Homo sapiens: one gene and its partner. The protein of the gene in region 2 interacts with the protein of the main gene of each other region in a biochemical or structural test. Each region holds a gene or a part of one and is shown on either strand. Other genes may lie near its edges.

Region 1 (3,758 bases), on a different chromosome or scaffold from region 2:
CCTCCTGCAGGGCTCCCGGAGCCCCTACTTGTCCAGGCTGCCTGGTGAGACCCTGGCTTCTGGTGTCCTTGGCAGGTGCCAGCCTCCCCCGCTGACCCCCATCACGAGTCAGCAGCTTACCCCACCGACCACGTCCTTCTGCATTGACTGCCTCCTGTCCTGCTCTGGCCAGGCCTGTGTTCACACTAGTTCTGTCCAGCCCCTCCCTGTGAGGCCAGCTCCAGCCCCAGCGCATGGTGACCATCCCGTTACCCATGGGCAGGATGCACTCCTCTCAGTGGCTGGCGAGGCGCAGCCTGGTGCGGGCGCCACGGGGTCGGGCTGTGATCGCCTGTGGCCTCCCTGCAGGGCTGTGACTCCCTGACGCAGATCCAGTGCGGCCAGCTGCAGAGCCGCAGGGCCCAGATTCACCAGCAGATTGACAAGGAGCTGCAGATGCGGACGGGCGCTGAGAACCTCTACAGGTCAGTGCTTGAGACTGCCCGGCCCCGGGAGCAGGGCCCACCTGGGTGAGGGGGGCAGGACAGCCACGCAGGCAGATGTCTGCCCCATGGCCGGGTCACAGAGACAGGTGCATGAGCAGCTGGGTCCTGGTGGGCACGTAGTACACGTGATGCTCAGCCATGACCCTCACAGACCTGCCTCCGTGGGCCTCTGTGCTGGGCTGGAGGTGCCAGGAAACCAGTGTCCCTGCCGGGTGTGCAGCTTGGGAAGCCCCAACAGTGCACGTGGGGGCTTCTCAGAAGAGGCATGGTTGAGGCTGAGCTGTGGCAGGTGATGGCGCGTCCCAAGGTTGGGGACCTGGGAGGGGGTGGAAGACCTGGGCTGCCTCTTCCTTAGAGCACACCGCCTGTGTGCCACACATGTGCGTGTGAGTGCCCCTCGGTCCCCTTAGCACCTGCTACCTCCCTGCCCCCATCCTGGCCTTCCCTGGGGACCTCCGGTCCCTTTGCCAGGCCCTGATGCAGGCACAGAGAGGTGTGTGGCTCTCACCCACCATCCAAGGAGTGATGTTTGAGTGCTGTCGAGGGCTGTATGAGCCCCAAAGAAAGCCGTGGTGCTGAGGGAGGTGCCCCCAGGCCAGAGTCGGAACATGCAGGTGCTGGGGTCGGGGTGATGAACTGTAGGGGGCATCACCTGTGAGCCCCCGGATCCCACTGCTGCCCCTGCCCCACCCATGGGGGGCAGACCCTGTCAGCGACGTCCTCTGCAGGGTGGGCTTGGAGCTTTGACAGGTCAGCTGGCAGGACGGCTGCAGTGGGCACGGGGCCTTTGGCTCTGCCTTGGGGCTGGGCTTTCAACTGCCGCGGCCTCCCTCAGAGCCACCAGCAACAACCGGGTGAGAGAGACGGTCGCCCTGGAGCTGAGCTACGTCAACTCCAACCTGCAGCTGCTGAAGGAGGAGCTGGAGGAGCTCAGCGGTGGCGTGGACCCTGGCCGGCATGGGAGGTGCGGGTGGGGGCCGGGACAGCACGTGCGTGTATGTGTGTGCACGTGTGCGTGTGTGTGTGCATGTGTGTGCACGCATGTGTGTCTCTGTGTGTATATGTGTGCATTGTCTGTGTGTGTGCGTGTGTGCATGTGTGTGCATGCATGTCTGTGCGCGTGTGTCTGTGTGCATGTGTCTGTGCATCTCTGTGTGTGTGCGTGTGTCTCTGTGTGTATATGTGTGTGCATGTGTGTGCATGCGTCTGTGTGCGCGTGTGTCTGTGTGTCTGCATGTGTCTGTGTGTGCATCTCTGTGCGTGTGTCTGTGTGCACGTGTCTGCGTGCGTGTGCATGTCTGCGTGTATGTGGGTGTGTGTTTGCCTCTATGTGTGCGTGTATGCACGTGTGTCTGTGTGTGTCTGTGTGTGCGCGTGTGTGTGTCTGCACGTGTGTGCATATATGTGTGTGCGTGCGCATGTGTGTCTGCATGTGTATGCACGCATGTGTTTGTGTGTGTGTGTGCGCGCGCATGTGTGTGTCTCTGTGTGTGTGTGTTTGCTTTTGGGGCGGTTTAGGACGGTGGGGGGTGGTGCACAGGTGCAAGGATGCCCCCCAGGACACAGGCGCACGTGCACACCCATGAGGGAGGGAGGCACCCTGTGCCACAGAGCCCTAGGAGTGGACCCCGGGCTGCCGTGGGCAGCAGGGTTTGGCCTTACAGTCTGAAGTCGATGCTTCTGGTTACAGCGAAGCTGTCACTGTCCCCATGATCCCCCTGGGCCTGAAGGAGACCAAGGAGCTGGACTGGTCTACACCGCTGAAGGTAGGTACTGGCCTCCAAGCTCTGAGATACACGGCCCTGCCCTGGGACCAAGGGGGTCTTGGAGGCTTTCTGGTCCAGCTGTCTGGTTGAACAGATAGGGAAACTGAGGCCCAGAGGGAGGGAGGCTTAAAAGGGACGCAAGGGACCTGGCAGAAATGGCCACAGGGACCCAGCCTCTGCTGCGTTCAGGGCCCCGCTGGTGCCTGCGCCCCAGGCCGGGGCTGATCCCATAGAGTGGGTGTGAACATGTGCCCTACCCTCGGATGGGCAATGCCCTAGGAGGATGGGGCCTGGAAGCCCCAGCCGGAGCACAGGGTACAGGCTCGCCCATGGAGGGCACCACTGGCTTGGGGCCACACACCCAGCACTGGCTCACGAGGGTCCTGGGGAGAGCTAGAACAGACTGGCACTGCCTGGCAGGGCCCCACGGGAGCCACTGACTGTGTTCCGTGTCCGAGTCACTGAGTGGCAGATGGCACCTGCCTCCCGGCCACGGGGATGAATAAGGAAACGCACGTAAAAGTAGCGCTGAGTCTCCAGGCCCCGCTTCTGTGATGGGGTGGGGAAACCCCAGGGCCACAGGGGCTCCGACCCGCATCAACCCACCAGGCCCCTCCATACACATTGGCCCCCAGCCCTTCTCTGGGGCTTCCACTGAGGGGCCCAGGGCCCCCACGCTGCATGGCAGCCAGCCTGCTCTGCGGCACAGACCCTCCCTCCACCATGAGTCTTTTCCCAAGGTGGGTTGGGAGACCTCAGGGAAGGAGGCCAGGCACAGGGGTACTGTGGATGCCAACACCTGCCCCCCATCAGGAGCTGATCTCAGTGCACTTTGGAGAGGACGGCGCCTCCTACGAGGCAGAAATCAGGGAGCTGGAGGCCCTGCGGCAGGTGTGTGGTTCCCCCGCCCACCCACCCTCCTGCAGCCCTGGGAGACACATGCGGAGGCTGAAGCTGAAGTCAGGAACAGACAGAGGAGCTCAGCGTAGACATCTCGAGGACGTGGGGAGACGGGCGCACCAGGGGCCCTGTGTGTCCAGACCCAGCCAGGGGGCGTGGAGGGGCTCCCAGGTGGCTCCGGTGCCGCATGCTGCTGGCCTTCGGGAGTCACGGCTGCCCAGGGCCCCACTGGCTTTGCCTCCCCGCCCCCCATGGTGCTGGTGCCCATGGGACTTCCCAGGGCAGTGTGTGTGAGTGGGGTGGGCCAGGGCGGTGGGGCCCAGTGGCTCCTGCCCTGCAGGCCATGCGGACCCCCAGCCGGAATGAGTCGGGCCTGGAGCTGCTCACAGCCTATTACAACCAGCTGTGCTTCCTGGATGCGCGCTTCCTCACCCCTGCCAGGAGCCTCGGGCTCTTCTTCCACTGGTAGGGGCTCTGCGGGCGGAGGCACCCTGGGGAGGGGAGGCCCAGCTGCGGGAACCGTGGGAACTCCACCCAGCCTGACCCAACACTGCAGGTACGACTCGCTTACTGGGGTCCCGGCCCAGCAGCGTGCCCTGGCCTTCGA
Region 2 (3,758 bases):
TCTCAAGGGTTGGTCAGTGCCAGGCACAGGGTAGGTGCTCCGTCCCTGACAGCTATTGTTGCAATTACTGTTATCAAAATTATGTCTTTTAACCTCAGAAGGTAAACATTTTTGAAAAAGAGTATGCCAAATTATTCTGCCCAAAAGAGAATTTCACCCTTTCCTGATGACTGAGTGAGTGTCTGCAAGCCTCCATGGTTATTCAGCCCTACCCTTGTAGGGTAGAGCCTTGGGGCCCAGGGATATTAGATGAACAATTTCTTCCCCTATGCTAGAAGTTCCCACACCTTATGAGATCTTAGGTCGCTTCTTAGAAATATTCTGTCTCTTGATTTGTTGGGACAGGAAGCTTCCCCAGTAAATGCTTCTTTTTTTGTTTGTGGTTTTTCGTTTTTGTTTTGTTTTTTTTTTTTTTTTTTTTTTTTTAAGAAAGGGTCTCACCCTGTTGCCCTGGCTGCAGTGCAGTGGCAAAATCATAGCCCACTGTAGCCTCGACACCCTGGGCTCAAGCCATCCTCCCACCTCAGCCTCCCAAGCAGCTGGGACTACAGGGACCCACCCCATGCTTGGCTTATTTCGTTTTGTTTTCATAGAGCCAGCGTCTCACTATGTTTGCACAGGCTGGTCTTGAGCTCCTGGCCTGAAGTGATCCTCCCACCTCAGCTTCCCAAAGTGCTGGGATTACAGGTGTGAGCCACTGCACCTGGCTTCAGTAAAACACTTCTCATCAGTTGTTGGCTGTTATAAACAGGCCCATTCTAAGTGCATGAAAAGTAGGAGTTACTAATGAGTGAGGCCTGAGACACAGTGGGATTACTGACAGCTGGGTTCTGGATAGACGGGGAAGATTGCCTGCTCTGCCCAGGCTGATATTGGAAGCTGTATTCCTGTGAAAACCTTTAGAGATTTTTTTTTTTTCCTGGGTGAGGCAGCTGTAATGTACTAAAGCAACAATATGTGAGTGGCAATTTAGGGTTTGTAAAGTGAAAATTTCACATGCATTGGGAGATGTGGACCTCTGGGAAATCAGGAGCTGATCTGATTCTTCGTCTCAACCTGGGCAAAATTATCAACCTCTCTGAGTTACAAAAACAGAAATTTTCTTAATGGCACCCACCTTTTCTGGTCTGAATCAAGTATAACAATGTAATAATAGATGCACAGGCCCAAGCACATAGTACACACTCAGTAAACAGCTGGGTCCTCCTGCCCCTCCCCAGGACAGGGCAGCAGGTCGAAGGGGAGGGGCGGGCGTCGGTTAATCCCTCCCTGCCAGGTCGGCCCAGGCAGCCTGAGGTCAGGAGGGATTTGTAAAGATAAGCACAGGCCCCTCGTTGCCCTGGCAACAGGCCCCGCCCCTCCAGCCTGGCCCGGGAAGGGGGGACAGCCCCTCCTCCGCCCTGCTGCCCTCCACACCCCGCCCCTCCTTGCCTCTCCTGTCTGGCCTGGGCTATCGTGGCCTCCTAGGCTCACTCCTGGAAGACAGAGACAACCTGAGGTCAGCGGTTCCCACACCTAAAAGTGAAAGGAATCCCCCAGGAGCAGGTTGCGATGCAGATTCTCAGGCTCAGGGCCCAGTGGTTCTAAATTTGGGGTCTGGAGTGGGTTCCAGGAATCTGTATTCTTAATGTGGGCCCGTGATTCCGGGAAGCTTGGAGTGAGGCCCTGGGTTTGGATTCCAGCCTCCCTTGGGCTGTGGACTGTGAGGCTGCTTCGAGTCTCCCTTTCCTGAGCTGTAAAACAGGCATCATAATCCTATCCACCTCGGAGGTAAATGCCAAGATCAACTGAGATGACACATGAAAGATGGCTGTCCCTCCCAGGCAGGACTGTGGCACTATTGCATGCCTCCCAGGACGGGCAGCTCCTTCCCTTCCTGCCTGGCTCTGACTGGAGAAATTCCTTCCTCCCATGGGGTTGGACTCTGTCTCCCGGGCTCTGTCATTTAGAGCCCATCTGCTCCCATGGTCCTGGGAAGATCCCTTGTGACAAGGCACCTCCCCCGCCCCCCAGGATCCTTTCCCCGGTGCTGCCTCCCCAGCGTGGTCCCAGCTGCTCTGAGATAGGGGGCAAAGCTTCAGATTGGATGGGCGGGGAGGGGGGGGGGTTCCTTGCACTGCACAGGTGAGGGACAGTGCTCTGTGGGAATTAAGTGAGGGACCTGTTGGCACAGGCGCTGGCAGCCGGGGCCCTTTACCATGGGTTATGAGTGCTGCACCCTCCTGAGCAGTGCTGGCCACACCCAGTCCCAGGGCTGTGCCCTGCATCACCTTGGTGAATCCTTTCAACACCTCCATGAGATGGGCACTTTTTGCACCCCAGATACAAACCAGGACTGCCCGATGCCCCAAACCTGTGCCCTTTCCTGGGGGAGCTGGAAGGATGCGGGTCAGGCCACAGGACAGCCCTGCCTGGAATGCGGATGACGCCTGAGAGGCTGCCAGCCTTATCTGGGGGGCTTCACCAGAGTGGGGGAGGGAAGGGTGCAGGGTCTGAGCTGTTCTGGGGTCTGGTGAGTGTCTAGATGACAACCTGGGTGGGGGAGGGGCACCTTTGGGAGCTCCGGATGGGGGTGGGGGGAGGAATGGAGGCTGTGTCTTCTGGAGGCTCTCCTCCCCCATCCCTTACCGAGTTGTTACCAAAAGCAGCCCTTGACTGCGGTGCTGGGGAGCTGAATAGTTCAGCATTTGATGAGGGGATTCTTTTATGATCTAATTTTCAGACTGGGAAACGGAGGCTCTGTAGGAGAAATGACTTACCCAGGGTCTCATAGCTAGGAACTTTCTGAGCTGAAATTGAACCCAGGTCTGTTTCACTTCAAAGCTCAAGTTCTCACCTGGGCATTGTGGTGACAAGGCTCTCAGGAAGGCAGGAGGAGAGGAAGGGGGATGAGGATCTCTGGGCGTGGCTTCCAAGCCGGTTGGTGACCCTCTGTTAGAGCCCCGGTGCTGGAAGCATCATGGTGGCCAGGGGCAGGTGTCCGTGAGCCATCTCAATACCTGCTCTGTACCATGCGACCTTGGCCAGGCCGGCCACTCAGGTGTTTGCTGATGGGGGATGAAATTAGGGCCAGGGACCCTCTAGAAGTTCCTAGGCCAGTGGCTGGCAGGGGGTGGGTAGTGATGTGGAGAAGGGGTAGGAATGAGACCAGCGGAGCACACGATCCCTGCTTTTGAAGTTGTCCACCCATCCTCCAGAGGTTGAGGTCGGGCCCATCTCCAGTTTCACCCAGGGATGGAGTTACCAGACCCCTGGCAGAAGAGGTGGAGGGGGCAGTGGGAGGAGCCTCACCCTCTGGGGCCTCCTTGGATGGATGGGGCCTGCAGGAGGGAGACCCCTCCCCAGGTGGAGCTGAAATAATCCAGATAGACCTTGAAGCCTGTCCCAGCGAACACTAACTTGCTGTGTGAAGTGGACAGGGCTGGGCAGGCTCAGCAAGCCTTCACTTTCTTTCCTGGGCCTCCTTTTGCTGTCTGGTGCAATGGGCATGACGGATACTGCCTCAAAGGGGGACTGCAGGGACAAGACAGTGGAGGGAAGCTCACGGGGCTCAGGGAACCTCTGCTCACTAATCCTGCCCAGAAGCCAGACATCCTTGGTGCTGTTTCTCTGCTATATAGGCTCTCCTAAAACCGTTCCCAGTTCTGGGTGCAGATGTGTGCAGCTTACTGGGACCTGGCTTGCAGACCCCTGGCCCTCTGTCCATACTGTGCATGCAGAGACCCACGTTGCTTTTGGGGTCTGGGGTGGGCCTGAGA

The links. Proteins that work in one complex are often made in the same cells at the same time.
Region 1: the proteins of CRB2 (region 2) and RHPN1 interact in a test that uses a peptide from one of them, tested with the Homo sapiens proteins (one large-scale study listed by IntAct).

Annotation. Positions count from the first base shown.
Region 1 is NC_000008.11:143,375,205-143,378,962, forward strand, and holds part of RHPN1 (rhophilin-1), read left to right. Parts: intron 1-348; coding exon 349-464; intron 465-1,320; coding exon 1,321-1,449; intron 1,450-2,175; coding exon 2,176-2,251; intron 2,252-3,064; coding exon 3,065-3,142; intron 3,143-3,491; coding exon 3,492-3,616; intron 3,617-3,707; coding exon 3,708-3,758. UniProt on the Homo sapiens protein: Has no enzymatic activity. May serve as a target for Rho, and interact with some cytoskeletal component upon Rho binding or relay a Rho signal to other molecules.
Region 2 is NC_000009.12:123,359,041-123,362,798, forward strand, and holds part of CRB2 (protein crumbs homolog 2 precursor), read left to right. Parts: intron 1-3,758. UniProt on the Homo sapiens protein: Apical polarity protein that plays a central role during the epithelial-to-mesenchymal transition (EMT) at gastrulation, when newly specified mesodermal cells move inside the embryo.